Linked DNA regions of Homo sapiens: region 2 is linked to region 1. The links come from fine-mapping of genetic effects on plasma protein levels. A gene starts in region 1. The other region holds a variant in brackets. All regions are shown on one strand. Distances are between the middles of the regions.

Region 1 (2,914 bases):
CTAAAACAGCCCACACTTAACAGTTTTATGTTTGGCATCAGGGAATCTACAAGGAAAGGAATTTTCTCAAGCCACTAAAATCCAAGTCAGAAGGGAAGGCATTTAATTACTCCATTCACCGTTCTCCAAAGTGAATCAGATTTACAGTTCTTACCCCTTGCTGGAAGGCAATGCCAGAAACAGTACCTAGACAGAACCGCTTCAGAAATCAGGTGTTTGCAACTGCGTTTTATTGAAAGAAAGAGTGGAGGGGTTAACATGGGGCCCACCTCACAACCCACTCTTCACCCCCAAAATCACGCAGGGATGGGACTCAGGAAAGGGAAGCATGTGTGTGTTGAATAGGAGCCCTAACTGTAGTTACTTCTTTCACAGCAGGGAAGGAAGAGGGAAGAGGCAGCTGTGGAGAGGATGAGGTTGAGGGAGGTGGGGTATCTCGCTGCTCTGACCTTAGGTAGAGTCCTCCACAGAAGCATCAAAGTGGACTGGCACATATGGGCTCCCTTCACAGGCCACAATGATGTGTCTCTCCTTCGGGCTGGTCCGGTATGCACAGTTGGGGTACCTGGAGCCGTTTGTCAGGCGGCAGTCTGTGATGTGCATGCTGGAGTTGCTCTTGTAGCAGTTGCCCTGCCCGTTCTTGCAGGTGACCTTTTCCTGGAAACAGACATTCTGGACATCTACCAGGGGCTCGTGCACAAAGGTGTTCACTGGTTTGCACCGCCCCTGTGTCATATTCCGGCGCCTCATCATTTGGTTACAGTAGGTGGAGCTGCTGCTGGGGGAACTGTCTGAGTCCATATGCTGCCGCTGGAATTTCTTGGCCCGGGATTCCTTGCCCAGGGAAGGCTGGACCCAGCCCAGCACCAGCAGTATCAGGACAAGCAGAAGGAGCCGGACAAGAGACTTCTCCAGAGCCATGGTGGCCTCACTTTCCCAGAAAAGCCTAATTGAGAAAAGGAGAGAGAAGGAAAAGAGCCCTCTTAGAAAAAGAACTCCAGCTCCCACCTATGGCTTGCCTGGTTTACACTTTCTGTTTCAGGTCAGCCAGAAAGACGTCCATCCTACTTCCTGAGGTTTTTCGTGTAATGAGACACTCACGTGTACCCTTTTCCACGAGCGTTTTATTCCCACTCTCCAAAGCGAGGTCTTCCTCCCCTCTAGGTGGTGACCTACAAAGTGACCTAAAATCCTGTCAGTTCCTATCTTTGAATACTGGAGTTTCTTTGATCCAAAATACATTTGTACCCAGTGCTCAAATGGCTCATCGAAACATCAGTTTGAATAAATCATGAACCAAATTGTATCCCCGACATCCAGGGCCATGGGTGACAGAGCCTTGTTGTCTTGGAGCATAAGGGAACTCAGGCCAGTGCCTGACACTGGCATCATAAAAGATTCCATTGTATTCCAGAGAGAAACGCTGGCCTCCCCCAATTTGGAGGCTCCTTCTTCTCCAGTCCCATGGATGCTCTGCAGCCTGCACGTTCCACCCTGACCCCTCTGCCCCCAGCTGATGTTTGCCTGGGCCACATTTTTTCAGCGCTAGCATCACCCAATCTTTCTCAGTGCTGTGGACTGGCCCTAGCTCCCTCTTCTGCAACCCTGAAGCAGAAGCGGCACCTGAGAACACCTCTTGGGCTGCTTACCTGGATCTGCAGCTTGGTGTCTGAGAGAGATGGAAGGCCAGTTTCTGCAATCACTCAGCTCCCGGGGTGTGGACCTTATACAGATTACAAAGGGGTTTGGCTTCCAAGAGGAAAAGGGTGGGAGGAGCATCTGGAGCTCAGTTCAAATAAAATCAAGGACGTGAGGAAGGAGTGGTGAATCACCCAGGCCGCCGTCTTTCTAGGGCTGCTGAAGAAAGAGCAAATCTTTGCCTACGTTAGTCTTTCTTCCTATGTGAACCACATCTGTCTGCTGATGCACAAGGAGCAGCAGAGAAAGCCACTACAGCACTGGTGCCCAAACCTGGCACACTAGGAACAAAGTCCTTGTTACTTCTTCGTGGGCGTTTTCACCAAGTAGACTTGGAGGTTAACAAAGGACGCAAAGGAGAGGTTCTAATGGGAGATAGGGAATTCTGGCCAAAGCTATTCCAGGGCTCCTAGGGAGCAAAACCCAAGTCTCTTTCTAGGAGGGCATTCTCCCAACGCTACCTCTCCCGGGGATGGGAGGCGGGGTCGGGGGGAATGGAGGCTGTCCTGCTGCCCCCAGCTGGAAGGCTTCCCAGATCTGGAGAAGAAAGGGGGAGTAACTGAATAGGGAGGAGGAGGAGGCCTCTAGGGTGCGCTCACCCAGTTCTGGCCACTTCCCACCCACCCTCCACCCCTGCTCTGGGGGCATCGAGAGGATGGGGCTGTTCTTATCTACAGTAACCACTGACCCTGTAGGTCGGAATTGAGTAGAGGAACTAAAGATAAACTTAAATCCCAAATCTCAAATTCTTTTTGGGGAAAAAATACAAAGAATATCATATTTATTAGCAGCAGAATGCCCTCCTAGAAAGAGACCTGTTTTTTTGCTGAGTAACAATTTGGATACCTCTAAGAATTATCAAAATATCCCTTCGTGCTGTGTATTCAGATTGTTTCAGCCTTTCTGTGTAAAAAGTGGCCATAGTGAAATTATCTGACCTACCTTGTGTGATTGTAGGTCGTAAGATCCTCATTCCAGAGAGGGTCCTGCCCCCCATACCCAGAAAAAAAGGACGAATGCTCAGAGAGGCCAAGAAGAATCTAGACAGGGAGGCCTTGCTGGGTTTCCCCACTCAGTCTATTTTCATTAGATCGCCCTGTTGTCCAGTCATATTTCTACACAGCTGTTCATACTTTGTTGATATCCAAGTGTAAGAATGCCCACTTTCCCCTGTTATCTTTGGGTCTTCTGAAGGCTCCCGTGTCGTGTAAAACTA
Region 2 (2,914 bases), 16 kb after region 1:
AAGAACAACAATCTCTAAGATGGCTCCCAGTTAAAACATTGAGTTTTGTTTGTTTTTTGTTGTTGTTATTGTTTTTCTTTTGAGACGGAGTCTCACTCTGTCGCCCAGGCTGAAGTGCAGTGCCACAATCTCAGCTCACTGCAACCTCTGCCTCCCAGGTTCAAGAGATTCTCCTGCCTCAGCCTCCCAAGTAACTGGGATTACAAGTGCCTGCCATCACACCCAGCTAATTTTTGTATTTTTGGTAGAGACAGGGTTTCACCATGTTGGCCAGGCTGGTTTTCAACTCCTGACCTCAGGTGATCTGCCTGTCTTGGCCTCCCAAAGTGCTGGGTGGGATTACAGGAGTAAGCCACCACGCCTGGCCCGTCTGTTTTTTAATGTTATCTCCTTCTAAAGATCTTCCCCTCAATATCTCTAAGGAAGAAAGGTTGGATCTTAATAGGAAATCTAGTTTCTTAAGACTTTTATGCTTCTCACAGAGCCAGAGTTACTTTTGTGAGTGTATTCATCAATTGCCTTTGGTCTAACTGAAAAAACAAACCCCACACCTTAGTGCAGAAACACAGATACACAGAAAGAGACAAAGTTCTCACCTATACCCCTTCCCCCATACTCCTAAATTCCTGTGAAAGACCAGCAAAAAAATGGATTTTTACCCCAGTATGGATTTTGTGTATGTTCACACTAAATACAATTCACAAAGTTTTATCTTTCTATGAAGAAACTAAATGCCACAGTGTATTCACACTTACAGGAATTTAAAGCTTTTATTGTAAAGCTAAGGCAGCATGAAGAGTAAGTGCTGTAATTTAATGTATAAATTCATTCTATGTTGATTTCTATAGTAGGAAAAAGCAACTTTGGTCTGTCTGTGGTTCCATCATCAATTCACTGAGTTAAATAGAAAGCTTCAGGAATATAGTATTAACAGAGACCCCAAAATTACAGATAAATCCAGTAATGGAGCTTACAATACAGAATTAGAGGGTGCTAATTAATGAATTTTGGGAACAAGTCAGCAGTTAATAAATATTCATTAGGAAGTTGCAGTATATATTTCTCTAAGTTACCAAGTGACCTAGATATGGAATATTGAAAAAGATAATTTTGTATCTTTTGTATCTTTTTTAATTCCTGCTAAATTAATAGAAATATACTACTTGTATTTTCATCACCTACAACATTATTAACATTTTAGGGTGTAATTCTCCACACTTTTGTCTATGTGTAAGATTTTATAAAATATGAAGTACTGTAACACTGCTTCAGATTCTGCTTTTTCTCTTCAAATGCATCTGGGGTCCTAGTAATATGTAATTTCTTAACCTGGATAGTGGTGAACACAGATCTGTTTGCTTTGAGCTAACTTATTGAGCTATGTAATTATGTTTTTTCTGTGTGTATATTTCAATTTTTTTAAGTTTATTTAAAAACATATCCTAGGCTGGGCTTGGTGGCTCACGCCGGTAATCCCAACATTTTGGGAGACGGAAGCAAGTGGATTGCTGGAGCCCAGGAGTTCGAGACCAGCCTGGCCA[A/G]TAGAGGGAGACCTCGTCCCTACTAAAAATTTAAAAAATTAGCCGGGCATGGTGGCTCACACCTGTGGTCCCAGCTACTCAAGACCTGCCTGCGCAGTATAGTGAGACCTTGTCTCTACTTAAAAAAAAAAAAAAATTAAATTAGTGGTCCCAACTACTCAGGAGGCTGAGGTGGGAGGATGGCTGGAACCCAAAAGGGTGAAGCTGCAGTGAGCCATGATCAAACCACTGCATTCCAGCCTGGGCGAGAGAGTAAGACCTTGTCACACACACACACAAAAAATTCCATCCTATATATTCCAAGTCAACATATATCTATATTACTCTAAATGGCTCTATAGTATTTCATGTTATGGATATATCATAATTCATTAAACAAATTCTGTATTTGGGGACATTTATAAGATTTACAACTTGTTACATGTACACTGCCTTCAATAAAAACTCTTCTATGTCTGCATTTATACTCTTGTGTCATAGGGCAGATTCTCTACAAAAATAAACACTGAGATTAAGATGTGCATTTAAGATGTTTACTGCAGGCCGGGCGCGGTGGCTCATGCCGGTGATCCCAGCACTTTGGGAGGCTGAGGCGGGCGGATCACCAGGTCAGGAGATGGAGACCATCCTGGCTAACACGGTGAAACCCCATCTCTACTAAAAATACAAAAAAATTAGCCGGGCGTGGTGGCGGGTGGCTGTAGTCCCAGCTACTCAGGAGGCTGAGACAGGAGGGAGAATGGCGTGAACCCGAGAGGTGGAGCTTGCAGTGAGCCGAGATCGCTCCACTGCACTCCAGCCTAGGCGACAGAGCGAGACTCCGTCTCAAAAAAAAAAAAAAAAAAAAAAAAAGTTTACTGCACAGCAATCTTGGGGCAATATCTGCAGAGGGAGTGAAGGAAGCATTATCGGGCAGAAGAGGTAGGATTTTGATGCAGTCACAACAAAGGCCTTGGCCAATCCCACAGGTATTCTAGCTTTCTTTAGAGCTAGATTGACCTTCAGAGTTGTTCTGAATTAAGGTAAAGGGACCAAGCCTTTATATCCCGTTACCATTTATTAGATGTTGACTGCCCTTGGGGAGGAGGCTTCACTTTTAGCAGGATGGTTCTCTGCCACTGTTACACTCTTGCCAATGCACCACAATGTAGTAGTCTCTCGCTGCCCAAGGCATCATCCTAAGTTCTTTGTCTCATGACCAAGAAAGTTAAGGATCCTGGACACCAAGGGTGAGGTTGGAGTGAAAGTTTAATAAGCGAAAGAAGAAAGCTCTCCGCTGCAGAGAGGGGACCTGGAAGAGGACTGTTGTTTCTACAGTTGAATGCAAAGGCTTTTATAGAAAACCCATGAGGGCTGGGAGTCTCCTTTGCATA

Evidence for each region. PIP is the posterior inclusion probability: the model's chance that the variant is causal. Sun 2018 read protein levels with aptamers (SomaScan).
Region 2: its variant is fine-mapped to the plasma level of the RNASE1 protein (Sun 2018, PIP 0.95).

What each region holds. Positions count from the first base shown.
Region 1 is chr14:20,801,148-20,804,061 of GRCh38, forward strand. RNASE1 (ribonuclease A family member 1, pancreatic) reads right to left here and starts at 1,697. Exons shown (of 2, transcript NM_002933.5): 1 at 1,650-1,697; 2 at 81-946. The coding sequence starts at 921. The coding sequence ends at 451. All of the region lies in intron 3 of LOC105370397 (a long non-coding RNA gene), which reads left to right.
Region 2 is chr14:20,817,523-20,820,436 of GRCh38, forward strand. No RefSeq gene overlaps it. Among named protein-coding and RNA genes, the nearest start is that of RNASE1, 16 kb to the left of the region's middle. RefSeq lists a cis regulatory region at 2,814-2,914. The variant A/G (reference allele first, on the strand shown) is at 1,542.